2 separate regions of the Homo sapiens genome follow, and region 2 is linked to region 1. A link means that fine-mapping ties the variant in region 1 to the expression of a gene that starts in the linked region. Tissue or cell type: whole blood. Region 1 holds a variant in brackets; the other region holds the start of a gene. All regions are shown on one strand. Distances are between the middles of the regions.

The links. PIP is the estimated chance that this variant, and not a neighbour inherited with it, causes the effect.
Region 2: it holds the start of SCAMP2, and the variant in region 1 is fine-mapped to the expression of SCAMP2 in whole blood (INTERVAL, PIP 0.96).

What each region holds. Positions count from the first base shown.
Region 1 is chr15:75,029,155-75,037,255 of GRCh38, forward strand. The region is part of intron 2 of PPCDC (phosphopantothenoylcysteine decarboxylase); the gene reads left to right. Among named protein-coding and RNA genes, the nearest start is that of PPCDC, 9.6 kb to the left of the region's middle. RefSeq lists enhancers at 24-213, 2,270-2,770, 7,271-7,771 and a silencer at 4,725-4,918. The variant A/T (reference allele first, on the strand shown) is at 4,452.
Region 2 is chr15:74,869,956-74,878,056 of GRCh38, forward strand. SCAMP2 (secretory carrier membrane protein 2) reads right to left here and starts at 3,410. Exons shown (of 9, transcript NM_005697.5): 1 at 3,244-3,410. The coding sequence starts at 3,300. RefSeq lists enhancers at 1-92, 608-1,593.

The DNA of each region.
Region 1 (8,101 bases):
TCTTATCCCCCTTGGTCTTTGCGTGGCTGGGCCCTGCTAGGCTGGCTGCCCTCTCTGCTCCTCTCTCGCCTTTTCACATTCTGTGCAAAGCCTTCCCTGTCTGCCCCAGCCCAGCCCCTGTGGTTTTGGCCCCTTCTTTTAAACTTATTTGACATAGAACTATAGGTTGCCTTAGACACTGCTGGTGTTACTGGCCCCTAGTTTTTGGTGGGGTCTTGTGAAGTTGCTGGGCCCCAGGCCTGGCTTTTCCCTCTTGTTATCAGCTGAGCACCCAAGGTGCAGTGGCCGTATCTGGCATGTCCAGCAGGGGGCGGTGCTTACTCACAGATGACCACGTGGTCACATCAGCTGGGGCTGGGCTGGGAAGTGTTTCACTTTTTTACTTTCCACCAACTTCCACCCAGAAAGTCACCCCATCACCCCACCCCCAGGGCTGGGATAAGCCATGAAGCTGCCAGCCAGGGATGACAGCCAGGCCAGAGTGGGGGAGGGAGGAGAGTCTCGTGGCACTCTGACACTGGGTGCTGCACTTTTAGGGCAGTGCTGCTTAGGCCCAGCCACCCGCTGTGTACCCAGAAGCATTGGTAGGAGCTGCCCAGCTAGAGCCGTGAGGGTGGGAGGCCTCTGCCACCACCCCCTGGGGAGGGAGGGAGCCATGCAGTTCCCTTTTCCCATAGCCCCAGGGCAAGTGAGTTTCCGGACTAGGGGTGGATAGGGGCGGGGAGTCCTATCCCAGGAAACAGATGGGCAGCCTCAGAGCGGAGGGAAATGGCAACCCTACCGCTTCCTCCCATCCCACGCAGCCAGCGTTTGGTGGGAGGGGGGTTGTGAGGAAAGGGTTGCCTGGAGCAGGGAGGTGCTCCAGCCCACCCCAGGGCCTTTTAGCCTGGGCCCCATGGGATGGCAGGCCATGTCTGGAACAGGACTTGGCTTCCCCTCTCTGGTTGGAGTTGATGCCAAAAGTGAGGCAGCCAGAGGGCACTGAACTGGGAGGGAGGGCTCCCCGACTCAGCCTCTTGGAGCTTGCCTTTCCCATTTGAAAATAGGGCTGATTCCTGCTGCCCATCCCCCAGACTCTTGTCAGGCTCCCTGAGATGTTGGCTGGGGTGGGAGGGGTCACAGATGAAAATGGTCCTGTGCCAGTGACTCAGCACAGAGCCTGGCATGTTGAAGCACTCGGTTGTGTGTGTTTCCTGGCCATCACCCTGTCCTTTCCCCTTGTTCATGTCCTTTGGGCCAGCCACATGGTGTGGGGCAACCCCACTGGGAAGAGCCATGGAAGCCACAGTTCACCTGCTCTTGTGGAGGGCCCATGCCTTTCATCTGCAGGGAGACAGCTCTCCAAGCCTGGCCTTGCTTATTAGGGCCCTCGTGAGGTGTTGGGATCCAAAGGTAATCCCTGGATTGCCTTGTGTTGGCCCCAGTGGTGGCGTCTATCCCTGCACACTCCCCTTCACTCCCTGATGGCCCTGATCTCCACATTGCCTCCTGCTGGATCTCCTGCAGGAGCATCATTGTCCCTTGGAGCAGTCACTTTCAGCTCTTCACCTGCTGAGTCGTGGGTTCAGGTGCTCAAGGCTTTCCGGAACTTCCTTAGGTACATCCAGATTTTGTCTAGCACATGAACAGCTGGGGTGTGGGCTGCAGGGAGCTGGGGGATTCTACAGATCTGGCCCATCACTGTTCCTGATTGACCAGTATGTCCAGACATCCCGGGAAAGCCGCTAATGTCAAGGTAGCCAAATCAGGGAGACTGTGAGGGGTGGTGGAGAGACATGGATTAGCCACAAGCCACACACACCAGCAGTCAGGGAGAGTAGTCACTAGCAGAGATGACCTTGAGTATGTTGGGGCAGGTGGGCAACCGTGTCACAAGAGAGGCAGCTGAGCACATTTCTGACGCTGGGACCCTGGGCAAGTCCGTTCTTTTTGGCCATAATTTTCTTATCCACACAGTGAAGGAGGGGCAGGTTCTCAAATGATCCATCTCCAGGGCCTCTTCTGGCACTGGTGTTAGAAGATTCTAGATGTGAGGGCAAAAAGGACTAGGACCCAAAGGCAGCCTGAGAGAAGGTCCTGGGGCTCAGGAGCTTCAGGATGCCGGGGGTTTTGTAGTTCCGTAGTTGTCATGTAATTGAGTGGCAGTAAAATCCGGGTTGTCAGCTCAGGCAGTTTCTTCCCTGGGGTTGGCAGCCTGGCCCATGCAGGGGAGCAAAAATGGCTTTCCTCCATCTTGCTAGGCTGCTTGGCTGGGCTATGAGTTCAACTGACTTATAAACAAAATTAACAGGGCCGGGCGCGGTGGCTCACTTTGGGAGGCTGAGGCGGGCGGATCACTTGAGGCCAGTTCGAGACCACCCTAGCCAACATGGTAAAACCCCAGCTCTACTAAAAATACAAAAATTACCCGGTTGTGGTGGGCGCCTATAATCCCAGTTACTCAGGAGGCGGAGGCAGGAGAATCGCTTGAACCCAGAAGGCAGAGGTTGCAGTGAGCTGAGATCATGCCACTGCACTCCAGTCTGGGTAACAGAGCAAGACTCCATCTCAAAACAATAACAACAAAAAACAAGATCAACAGGAGAAAACCATATTTAGTTACATATCTGCACATGGGTGTACCACAAAATATGAGATTCCCAGAAGGGTGAGATGGCTGAAGCCTGTATAGCAGCCTGAGCTACAGAAGGAAATAGGGGCTTGGGGCTTCTGGGGGTGGTGGCGACACAAGTTATGGGAGGGTGAGGGGAGGAATTATACGGTCTTGTTAGGCAGATAAAAACCTCTCAGATAATAAAAGATGCCTCAGCAGATTGTCAATAAGTCAGTCTTCCTTTCTCAGGGAGGGGGACTCAGGACAAGGGGAATCCCTCTTTAGGCAGATAAGAGAAGTTCAGAGAAAGTTCCTCCCTGCATTTGTTTTTCCCCCAGTGCCTTCAGGTTTGAAATAATCAGCATACCAAAGCCGCATATTATGGGGTGGCATTTCCTGAACTCCTTCATCCACACCCTTCAAACTTGGGAGGAGAAGACAGACATCGCCCTAGCTTTTGCCAGGGCAGGTGTCAGCAGAATTCAGAGCCAAAAGGGGATTTCTAAAGATAGAGAAAACCCCCAACTCAAGGAGTCAGCAGGCCTCGGGCTCAGAGAAGGATACATTTCTAGGGTGTCTGTCAGGACATCCAGGTCTGTCGAGGGTGAGGAAAAGAAGGCTCTGCTCATATGCAGTGTGGAGTAAATTCTGACTTTCTGGAGGACCACTTGACAATATTGAGAGAAATTAAAACATCTTCATAGTCCTTGATTTACCCACAGGATTAAACTCTGTGGGGTGTATTTACAAAGTGAAAGGATGTCCATTATAGCATTATTTATAATTTCAAAGCAAAACTGGAAGCAAACAAAATATCCAGCAGTAGAGAGCTGTGGTGCCCTTATGATTTATGGGACAATCTCTCAGTGGATTACTTGGCAATGATTCAGAAAAATGGGGTGGCTCTCTCTGTGCTGAAGGGAGCAATCATCAAGATGGAAGCGGAATAAGCAGGGTGTAGGAGCTAGCAAACTGGACCCCCCCCCCCAAGGCCAAATTCGGCTCTGCCTGTTTTTGTATAGCCTACAGCTAAGAATGATTTTTACATTTTAATTTTTATTATTTATTTTTGAGACAGGGTCTTGTTCTGTTGCTCAGGCTGGAGTGCAGTGGTGTGATCACTGCTCACTGTAGCCTTGACCTCCCAGGCTCAAGCAGTCCTCCCACCTCAGCCTCCCAAATAGTTGGGACTGCAGGCGTGCCATCACACTCTGCTAATTTTTTTGCATTCTTTTTGTAGATACAGGATTTTGCTATGTTGCCCAGGCTGGTCTCAAACTCCTGGGCTCAAGTGATCTGTCTGCCTCCACCTCCCAAAGTGCTGGGATTACAAGCATGTGCCACTGTGCCTGGCCTGATTTTTACATTTTTAAATGATTAAGTCAAAAGAAAAATAGTATTTTATGACTCGGAAAAAAAGTGATATGAAATTCAGATTTCATGTCCAAGACAATTTATTGGAACACAGCCATACCCATTCATTTACGTATTGCCTATGGCTGCATTCGTGCTACTACAGAGTTAAATCATTACGACAAAGCCTAAAATATCATCTGGCCCTTTATAGAGAAGGTTTGCCGACCCCTGGTATGCAGCCTGATTCCTTCTGTGTGTTCTTATACTGAGTTACTGCACACAGTTTTTTCCTCTGGAGGTGGTTACCCTTGTGAAGGGGGACCAGTGGAGGAAGGGAAACTTGCATTTTTCATTTTTGTATCATTCTGTTCAGTTTTAATTTGTAACCTATGTGTATATTTGTGTGTGTGTGTTTTTTTGTTTGTTTGTTTGTTTTAAGTCAGTGGGGCTTTTGGTGGGAATATTGGGGAACATTCTTGATAAGTTTGTGCTTTTTTTTTTT[A/T]AAGTGCTCACTGAGGAAAGAGCAGAAGACATAAGGCCTGGTTTGAGGATTTCTCTTTTTTTCTGGGTGGGGGCCACCTGCCCGCTCTGTGTCCTGATGTGGAAACTCTGAGACCTTTATTTGTGCCTCTGCCTGCTTGGCTGGCCCCTTCCTCCTCTGGCCTGCAGCCCTGTCACCTGCTCCTCTAGGGACAGAGCTCTGTCGGCCTCTGGGCAGAGGGTCCCGCACCCCAGGGTCCTTCCCTGATTGCCCAGAACAACGTTCCTGTGCAGAGCCTCCCTAGACCACCTCCCTGGTTTCCTTCTTGAGAATTTTCTGAAGTTGGGGAAGCACACAGAAGGGTTGGCATGAGGAGCTGACACAACCAGAACACCAGCTCCCCCAGGGGCAGATGAGAGCACGACTGTTTCCTGCAGAGCCAGGTGGGAAAGGTCAGGGTCACAGAAGGGCTGGGGTGGTACGGTGAGCTAGATGGAGCCCTACCATGTGGTCTAAATGGCCCATGCATGGGTCATAAGGGGAAACCAGGCACAGAGGAAGAGGGTCTCGCCCACGGCCTTCCAGGGAGTGAGTGAGTTAGCAGAACTGGGGGCTTGAGGCCAGGTTTCCTGGGTCCTATCAGTGAGTGAATTGAAGAGCTCAGACCTGGAGCTCATTCTCTGCTCAAGCTCACCAATGCTTGAGGATGGTGGAATTTGTGGATTCCTATCTTGGTCTGCCTTGCAGTTAGGGGTTACCTGTACCCCACCTATCTGTTAGACTGAGCCCTAGGAGAGGCCAGAGCTTGGATCTTATCAGCCCTGCCCCCACCATATAAGAGGCTTAGTAAATGTTTGCCGAGTAGAGGCATCATCATGAGCCATGGAACCCACTGAGCCAACCGGAACTCCCTTGGGGGTTTTGTTAAGGAGGCCACCTCCTTCACAGCTCCCGCGCCTCATGTGCCAACCGCACTGGGCCCCAAGAATCCTTTGTCCTAGAATGTACCCACCAACTCCCCTGCTCAGGTTAGTGTCAGCTTCTTAGCTGGCCGCTAGGACCTGGGCACAGATCTGGAGCATGCCATCGTCAACACTGGTAGACCCAATGTCAGAGTCCTCTGCTGTGCGTCCTGGCCCAGAGGACTGGGCCACCAAAGCCCTGGGTTCCTTGTCTTGTCACAGATTAAGTGCGGGGCTACCACTTCCTCTTTAGAATCCTCCTTGGTCTCCAGTGGAGGCATCATCACGCCCTACTAGAAACGCCTGCTCTCCAGCCACTCAGCTGCTAGTTCCAGTTGGGCTCTTCTCCTTTTCTTGTATATGCCAGAGCTGTGCTATCTGATATATTTAAATTTTCTTGTATATTCCAGAGCTGTGCTATCCGATAAATGTAAATTTGAATGTGGCAGCCGCTTGCCACATTCAAATTTAAATTTAAATTAATTAGAATTTAATAAAAAATTCAGTTCTTCAGTCACAGCAGTCACACCTCAGATGCTCAGTGGCCACATGTGGCCAGTGCTGCCACACCCTACGGCACAGGTAGGGCCGTTCCCATCATTGCAGAGATGGAAATGCTCTTCACGGATAATGCTGTAGAGTTGTGGTTCTCAACGGGGGTGATTTTCCCTCCCAGGGGACATTGGATAATGTCCAGAGACATTTTTGGTTGTCCTAACTTAGGGATGGTGGTGCTACTGGCTCTTGGTTCTAGTGGGTAGAGGCCAGGAATGGGCTTGGCGGTGGAGACTCAGGCCATGGGATTTGTCTCATCCTGTGGCTGCGAAGTGCCTCTCCACGAGTTCCTTTGATAATCTGCCCCAGACGTAGCCTGGCCACACTAGGGGCCTGAAGTAGAAACGGGAGGTATCACTCTAAATCCTCATTCCATTTCTCCTGACCAGACCCAAATCAGGATTCCTGATGTCTCTTCAGCAAAGAAAAGGAAACTAGACTTGCCAACTGGTTTCGGGAAGGAATCTCTATACATGCTAGATAAAATGCAGGCAGCTTATGTAATAGGGTCTGTCCAAGCCTCAGTCACATACACAAAGAGATTTAGCTTAAAACTATTAGCTGTAAAAACTTTTCTCAGGTAGGCTGAGCGTGGTGGTTCACACCTGTAATCCCAGCACTTTGGGAGGCTGAGGTGGGCAGATCACCTGAGGCCAGGACTTTGAAACCAGCCTGGCCAACATGGTGAAACACTCTTTCTACTAGAAATACAAAAATTAGCTGGGCGTGGTGGCGCACAACTGTAATCCCAGCTACTCTGGAGGCTGAGGCAGGAGAATCTCTGGAACCCAGGAGGCAGAGGTTGCAGTGAGCCGAGATAGTGTCATTGCACTCCAGCCTGCACAGAGCAAGACTGTGTCTCAAAAAAAAAAAAAAAAAAAAGGAAAAAAACTTTTTTCTAAGTGGTGTCAGCAGGGGACTAAGCCGGGAGCTGCCTTTCAGGAATTCTGTAGCATATGGGGGATTCTTTTTTAATGCCCAGCGCTGCTTCTACCAGGACCCACAAAGGTGTAAGAGAAAGCCAAGGAAGGCTCCTGCCCTCAGGGAGTTTCTGCCCTGCCAGGGCTCCTTGGCATTTGCTGGGAAAAGGTCAAGGTAAATGAGTAAACGGTCAGAATTATTTAGTATCATAGAAGATAACACATGGTTTTATTTATTTATTTATTTATTTTAATGTGTACAGGGCCCAGCCCTTGGCTCCCAGGACCTTTTGGTGGAGTGAATGAAAATAAAAGAACAAAGCCCATAGGGCTGATGAATCAGATCAAGTGACATCCCTCTAAAACCAGAAAAACTAGTCTGGGCCTGCTAGACAGCACTGGGGTCAGTCAGGGTCACCTCCAAGGAGAGTCAGCTGCTTCAGTGGGTCAGAGGTGGGGCATCAGGAAAGACCCGCCCATCACATACTCTTCGCATTACTCCTTAGTGAAGACCTTGACCCCAGGAGGCTCCCTAACAATGTGACTGTAACCTGGGAGGGTGGCTAGAGAGTGGAGCCTCTGAGAGGTTAGGCAAAGAGCTTAGAGGGAAGATCTCAAGCAGGGTGAGAGGCTTAACAGGACCCCGGGTGGAGCTCCCCAGGGGACAGTGGGGGCCTAAAGGCTCTGAGACCTTGAGTGACGGTGTAGGGAAGGAAGAAAGGGTAGAGTTGAGAGGGAGGCGAGAACCCCTGAATCAAGGGCATTACCAATTTGGGGATGATTCTTTTTATTTTTTTATTGATGGATGATTGATTGATTATTTTTTTTTTGTAGAGAAGGAGTTTTGCCCTGTTGCCCAGGCTCATCCCAAACTTCTGAGCTCAAGCAATCCGCCCGTCTCTGCCTCCCAAAGTGCTGGGATGACAGGCATGAGCCACCATGCCTGGCGCCCAATTTGGGGATGATTCTGAAGGCCAGCACTAGGCAAGGTTCTCCGCTTTGCAAACTGGAAGATGGTTTTGGGAGCTGGGGAGAGTGGAGGACCTAGACCTTCAGGAAGTAGCTTTCCAAATTTCAGAATAGAGGCGATGAACCTGGGACATTCTTAAGTAGCAAATGGTTCAGGATGGTTGGGAAGCTCTTAGAAATGAAAGATGGTGGTCCCATGAGCAGAAGCAGGCAGTGTATTAGCAGAGATGTGGTCTCTGGCTACCTGAAGCCTTCTGTTGAAGGA
Region 2 (8,101 bases), 160 kb before region 1:
ACATCACCATCTCAAGGAAAAGGTGGGCAGCTCTGACCAGGAGAAGGTTCAGAGGCCTCACATCCAAAGCTGTTTCTCCCCACACCACTGTGTGCCAAGAGGAAAAGCCCAGCCCAGGATGAGGAGGAGCAAATCGCAGCCAGCCAGCCAGCTTTCTTCTTCCCACCCAGGACTCCCCACCAGATGTGGCTGGTTGACAGGACCACAGCTGCTTCCTGTCATGCCATATCCTGGGGCTTCCTGATGGACAGACTGTCTCGCTAGAATGCAGAAGTTACTTCTACCACAGTTTGCACAGTCATTTTTGGAGCCAGAGATGAGGTTTAAGACTTTCAAGCAGCTATTAATACAGGGTAGAACTATCTTGCCCTCTGCTAACACTGGAGCAAAGCTCTCTGCATTTTTAGACAACTGACTTCCTCTCTGTCAGACAGCAGCAGACTTTTTATTTCTGATTCTGAGAGGACAAAAAAACACACATAAAAAATGGAAAATCATCACATACAACATACACCATAAGGCTACAAGATCCTACTAAAACCCAAACCCCAGTATTATACAGCAGTTTTGTAATTAAAGTCTGTTACCAGAAGACATTGGCAGAAAAAAAAAATGCAAATCTTCTTTCTTTACTCAATAGAGATGACTGTTTGCCTTACATAAGAGACAAGGTCCTTGCAAACGCTCTGTCAAGAAACATTAAGCTACGAGAGGAATGTTCAGAATTCCCTGATGTTCTAAGGAACAAGCTATCAGAATTTGCCCTGAGGGCTCCTGTTGGCTAAGACACCTTGAGACCAAGAAAGAAGCAAAACATTTTCACTCTCCTGACAGCGTATAATTATTTAGTTCAAGTCTCCTTTGATTTTGCTCTGACCCTTGAAGCGATTCAAAGTGGGAAAACTCATGCTGTGAATGACAGGAAGGACTCCTTCAAGGACTTCTCTGACACCTGCAGGAAACTTAAAAGCTGCCAATGACCAAAATAAAGGACAAGCAGGGTGAGTTAATGTGCCTGGTGACATCCTGACAGAGCAGAATATCAGGGCTCATAATTCACCAGTCAGCACAAACAAGCTTCCCTAGAACGGGTTTTGAGCAGACGTGAAACAAGAGGCATAGGAGCTCTGGAGGTAACAGTTCAGCCCCTCATGGTGGAAAAAGATCATCCCTGTGCTCTCAGCTGAAAGGCAGAAAGGTGTGGGCTTTAAGTAGGAAGACTGTCCTGTGGCTCATGCCTGTAATCATAGCACTTTGAGAGGCTGGGGCCAGAGGATTGCTTGAGACCAGGATTTCGAGACCAGCTTGGGCATCACAGCGAGACCCCTTCTCTACAAAAATTTTTTTTAAAAGGAGTCAGGCCCAGTGGCACATTCTTGTAGTCCCAGCTACTCAGGAGACTGAGGTGGGATTCAAATAATCATTTGAATCCTGGAGGTCAAGGCTGCCATGACCTCCACTGTGCTACAGCCTGGGCGACAGAGTGAGACCCTGCCTTAAAAAAGGAAGAAAGAGGGCTGGGCGCAGTGGTTCATGCCTGTAATCCCAGCACTTTGGGAGGCCGAGGCAGGTGGATCACCTGAGGTCGGGAGTTCGAGACCAGCCTGACCAACGTGGAGAAACCCCGTCTCTACTAAAAATACAAAATTAGCCGGTCGTGGTGGTGCATGCCTGTAATCCTAGCTACTCAGGAGGCTGAGGAAGGAGAATTGCTTGAACCCAGGAGGCTGAGGTTGCAGTGAGCCGAGATCGCGCCACTGCACTCCAGCCTGGGCAACAAGAGCAAAACTCTGTCTCAAAAAAAAGAGGCCAGGTGTGGTGGCTCACCCCTGTAATCCCAGCACTTTGGGAGGCTAAGGTGGGTGGATCACTTCAGGCCAGGAGTTTGAGACCAGTCTGGCCAATAAGGTGAAACCCCGTCTCTACTAAAAATACAAAAATTAGCCGGGTGTGGTGGTGCACACCTGTAATCCCAGTTTCTCGGGAGGCTGAAGCACGAGAATCACTTGAACCCAGGAGGCTGAGGCTGCAGTGAGCCGAGATCGCGCTACTGCACTCCAGCCTGGGCGACAGAGCAAGAATTGTCTCAAAAAACAAAACAAAACAAAACAAAAAAAAAGGAAAAGAAAGAAAGCAGGAAGATTGTTTCTTCCTTGATTGCTGTTCAAAAGGTCAGGCCAGGCGTGGTGGCTCACACCTGTAATCCCAGCACTTTGGAAGGCCGAGGCGGATGGATCACCTGAGGTCAGGAGTTTGAGACCAGCCTGGCCAACACGGTGAAACCCCGTCTCTACTAAAAGTATGAAAATTAGCTGGGTGTGGTGGCATACGCCTGTAGTCCCAGCTACTCAGGAGGCTGAAGCAGGAGAATTGCTTGAACTCGGGAGGCAGAGGTTGCAGTGAGCGGAAATCGTGCCAATGCACTCCAGCCTGGGCGACAAAGCGAGACTCCGTCTCAAAAAAAAAAAAAAAAGTCAGGCCAGCTCACACGTCAGTGCATCTCAACTATGTTGCCACCACACACAGTTCCATCAGACAAACGTTCCCTGTGGGTCCAGAATTTTTCACAGTCCCCCGCACCTCTCCTCTCTCCCTAACCCGGGCTCTCCTATCTGGTCAAAACCCACTCCAAACTAGACCCATGGCCAAAATGTGGAATTCTTATCAAGGCCATTTTTCAACTTGGGCTACCTTCCCGCCCTCTCCCATCTTTCTTTCCCTGACAAATCTCAGGGGCTCTCCTGTACTTTATACACTAGTTTGGCTGGTGGTGGAGCGGTGGCAGGTGTCCTGGGCTTTTCCCACATTTTTCCCCTCCACCAGAGGCTTCACCACCTCCTCATATGTTGCTGTCACCCCCTCTTCTAAAGTGACTCAAGACAGGTGTCTATCCAAGAATGAGGGAATGCGATAGCCACATTTCGCTTCTCCCTGACGCTAGGAGACTTCCGGAAGGGTCCGACCGTACCTGCTCCAGTCCCCTTCCCTAGCACAGCCCAGCCTCCGGGTGCTAGAAGACCCCACTGTCTCCAACACTTCAGCGCCCCGCCTCCTCTGCAGTTCCACCTGCTGCTAGTCGCGCCCCTCACGCGTTACGATAGGCCAGACCTCAAAGCCCGCTCTCCCATTGGGCAGATGACCCGTCCCTCCTACGCCACGTCTCCCGGCTCTAGCGAGAGGCCCGGGCGGCGGCCGTGGGCCCTAGGGAAATCTGAGAGCTGGATGGCGGGAGAGGGGCTCTACCTGGAAGGGGTTTACATCCACTGGGTCCGCGAAGGGGTTGGTGTCGAAAGCCGACATGGTGATCGGGGGCCAGCGGGCGAACTCCGCGAACGCTGCTGCCTCCGGGCACCCAGACCCAGCGGCGCTTCGTGTAGACCCTCCACTTCCGGGAGCGAGGCAGCGGTTCTGGCGCAGGCGCGATGCCCTCCCCCGAGGGCGTGGCCCTATGACGGCACCGGGGTCGCTCCGCCCCCCCCCCCCCCCCCCCCGCCCAGCCCACAATAGTGCGGTGGGTGGGCATTCGGCTTCCGTCCACATCTTCGCTCTGCTGGGGATTCAGGGGTCTTGGCTGCGCGGAGCGTCTACGGAGCCAGAGGCGTGGCCGGAGTCCTTCCCAACTGCCTATCAATCTGACACCTTCCAATTTTATGTTTCTAAAGCAAACTCTCAAAAGTGGGACAGGAAACAGCCCCTTCACTTCTCTGTAGACCAAGTTTGGGAAGAAGTCCAAACTGATCCCTGGGCAAAGGACAGGGGTGACAGGTGAGGCCAGAGGCCTTGGGAGAACTAGGAAAGCGCTTCTTCTGCAGAACGTGCTCGGGGAAAGAGAAGTGCCAGGACCATCCAGCAGTCCTCCACCCGAGCTGAGCCTGCTTCTTCTAGGGCTGCTCGCCCTCTGATGTCGTTTCATCGTTTTAGGGACGAGGGTTCCTGGGCCCATCAGCTTTGGGACCTGAGTTGGGACTTGAACCTGGACATCAAACATTTATGAAGTGACTCACGGAATTCAGCAACACAGCCTCAATCATGGGGGAGGTGGCTGCTTCACTCTCCACAGCTCCGCTTTCCCCCGCCCCCGCCCCCCACAGGGTCTCACTGTCGCCCAGGCTGGAGTGCAGTGGTGCAATCATGGCTCACTGCAGCCTCGAGCTCCTGGGCTCAAGCAATCCTCCCACCTCAGCCTCCTGAGTAGCTGGGACTACAGCTGGTCACCACCATACCCAGCTAATTTATGGATTTTTTGTAGAGATGGGGATCTCACTATATTGCCCAGGCTCGTCTCAAACACCTGGGCTGAAGTGATCCTCCCGCCTTGGCTTCCTAAAATGCTAGGATTATACTCATGAACCACTGTCTGGCCAAATCCACCTTATTTATTTGGATCTGTCTGGTATTATTCATCTCTGCTGTCACCGAATCCCAGCCACTGTCATTTTTACCCTGAACTAATACAGTGCTGTTAATTGGTCTATTGTTCTTCATGTTGTAATCAAAGATATGTTTAAAGGGGGCAAAATTATCACAGAACTTTGTTAAAATTTTTCAATTAATTTCCATAAAGGGCTGGGTGCGTGGCTTATGCCTGTAATCCCAGTACTTTGGGAGGCAGAGGTAGGAGGATCACTTGAAGCCAGGAGTTCGAGACCAGCCTAGGCAACATACCAGGACCCTGGCTCTACAAAAAAAAAAAAAAAAAAAAAAAAATATATATATATATATATATATATATATATATACATATACATATCTCACACACACACGTAATTAGCTAGGCATGGTGGCCTGTGCCTGTACTCCCAGCTACTTGGGAGGCTGAGGCAGGAGGACTGTTTGAGCTCAGGAGGTCAAAGCTGCAGTGAGCCATCTTTGCACCACTACACTCCAGCTGAGTGACAGAGTGAGACCCTGTCTCAGTTAAAAAAAAAAAAAAAAAAATCAGGCCAGGCAAGGTGGCTCATGCCTGTAGTCGCAGCACTTTGGGAAGCCAAGGCAGGCAGATCACCTGAGGTCAAGAGTTCGAGACCAGCCTGGCCAATATGGTGAAACCTCATCTCTACTAAAAATACAAAATTAGCTGGGTGTGGTGGTGCACACCTGTAATCCCAGCTACTTGGGAGGCTGAGGCAGGAGAATCGTTTGAACCTGGGAGGCGGAGGTTGCAGTGAGCTAAGATTGCAACATTGCACTCCAGCCTGGGCAAAAAGAGTGAAACTCTGTCTCAAAAAAAAAAAAAAAAAATCATAAAGGCCCAAATTCTTAGTTTGTCTTCAAGGTCCTAAAGGATCTGCCCCTACGTTTCTCCCCTTCTGACCCCTTCTAGCCCCCAACCCCCACCCACTGTTCCAGCCATGCAAGTTCTTTTCAGTTGCTCAAACCTTCCTTGTGCCCTCCTGTCTCAGGGCCTTTACACATGTGTTCCTTCTACCTGGTATGCACTTAACCCATGCCCCACTATCATCCTCTGGTTAACCTCTCCTTACCCTTTAAATGCAAGTTCAGATGCCTTTCTTCAGGAGTAGCTTCCCTTCACTCTCTTGGTTACATCATCACCTCATACCCAACATAAGCTCTCCTATTGCCCTGTACTTTTCCTTCACAATACCCATTGCAGATTGTAATTAATACTAGTATAGGTGGTTCTTTATGCCTGTATCCTCCGCTAGACTGAAAGCTCCATGAGGGTAGGGCTGAGGTCTGTTTTGCTCACTGTTGTGTTTCTGTCACTAACATAGTATAAAGCACATGATACACATTTATTAATTTATTTTTTGTGGGTTTGGGGTTTTTTTTTTTTCCAGACAAAGTCTCACTCTGTCACCCAGGGTGGAGTACAGTGGCATGATCTCAGCTCAGTGCAATCTCCGCCTTCCAGGTCCAAGAGATTCTGCTGCTTTAGCCTCCCAAGTAGCTGGGATTACAGGCACTCACCACCACACCCAGTTAATTTTTTTTTTTTTTTTTTTGTAATTTTAATAGAGACTGGGTTTCACCATCTTGGCCAGGCTGGTCTTGAACTCCTGATTTCAAATGATCTGCTCGCCTCGGCCTCCCAAAGTGCTGGGATTACAGGCGTGAGCCACTGTGCCCAGCCCACATGCATCATACACATTTAGTAACTATTTTACTGTTTCCCTGCATCCATTTATTTTGTTTGTTTATTTAGAAACAGGGTGTTACTTTGTTGCCCAAGCTGGTGTTGAACTCCTGGCTTCAATTGATCCTGCCACTTCCGCCTCCCAAAGTACTGGGCCTACAGGTACACACCACTGCGCCTGGTCATCTGTTTCTTTCACCTTCCTCTCCCATCTAAATCCTGACTATCCTTTAGGGTTTAGCTCAGCTTTACTTCGGGAAATATCTGCACACAAGTGGGAGGATGGGGAAGGATCCATTTTGTATCCCCTTAGAAATTGCCTGTCCCCAAGCCTCTATGGCCACCCCTCAAGGGCAGCAGACAGATCTTTGCTGTCTGCTCTCTGCAGCCTCAGAGGAGAACAGTCCACACCCCACAAGGCAGTCCTGCCTGCTCTGGGTCTGCTGCAGCCAAGTACAATGCTGGGCTGGTGAAGAAAGAATGAAACTTAATTACAACCAATGTGGTGGCTGCCCATCTATCTGTCTAATTCCCTACAAGAGAGACATCATTCATTTATTCTACAAGAGAGGAGGTATAGAGAATGCAGCTCTTTGCTTTTAAACCAGTTATTTCACCTCTCCAAGACCCATTTTTCTCATCTTGATCTTGAAACCACCTTTGCAAAAATTATAACTGAGGAAATTATGACAGTGGGAGAGATTAGACCTAACCTACTCCATCTTGCTTCTGACCTTTAAGTGGTCCTTGTTCATTCCTGGGTGTAGGCTGAACTAACCTTGGGAAGGAATTTATAGTTTAACTCTGAAACAAAATTGATTATAGCCCTTTTCCAAAAAAAAAAAAAAAAAAAAATCCCTTCTTGCCTGGGGACCAGTCTGCCTTTCTGGACTAATAAATTAGCTACAAGATTAGAAACTATGGTTTAGGGACCATGCAGCCTTCAGCTGTGAGTCTGAACCTCCCCAGATTGCTCCTGAGAATAACATCACTATTGTAAAACCTAAGATCAGTGCTTGAGATATTTTGCAGACCTTGCACTTGATGGATCTGCTGACACCACCTCCAACAGTAATGTAGCTCAGACAGTTCTGCCATCCCACTCAGGAACAGAAGACAGCAAGAAAAACTCACTTCGACCCCCTATGATTCCATCTCCAACCCGACCAATCAGCACTCCCTACTTGCCTAGCCCCTACCAGCCAAATTATCTTTTTTTTTCTCTCTTTTTTTCTTTTTGAGACGGAGTCTTGCTCTGTCACCAGGCTAGAGTGCTGTGGCACAATCTCGGGTCACTGCAACCTCCAACTCCCCGGTTCAAGGGATTCTCCTGCCTCTGCCTCCCAAGTAGCTGGGATTACAGGCATGCGACACCATGCCCGGCTAATTTTTGTATTTTTAGTAGAGATGGGGTTTCACTATGTTGGCCAGGATGGTCTCGATCTCCTGACCTCGTGATCTGCCCGCCTCGGCCTCCCAAAGTGCTGGGATTACAGGCATGAGCCACCACACCCGGCCAAATTATCTTTAAAAACTCTGATCCCAGAGGCTGGGCGCAGTGGCTCACACCTGTAATCCCAGCACTTTCGGAGGCCAAGGCAGGTGGATCATAAGGTCAGGAGTTCAAGACCAGCCCGGCCAAGATGGTGAAGCCTCATCTCTACTAAAAAATACAAAAAAAATTGCTGAGCATGGTGGCAGTCGCCTGTAATCCCAGCTACTCGGGAGGCTGAGGCAGATAATTGCTTGAACCCGGGAGGTGGAGGTTGCAGTGAGCTGAGATCGTGCCATTGCACTCCAGCACAGGAGACAGAGCAAGACTCCATCTAAAATAAATAAATAAATAGGCCGGGCGCGGTGGCTCACGCCTGTAATCCCAGCACTTTGAGAGGCCTAGGCGGGCAGATTATGAGGTCAGGAATTCAAGACCAGCCTGGCTAACATAGTGAAACCCTGTCTATATACTAAAAATACAAAAAATAAGCTGGGCATGGTGGCGGGGCG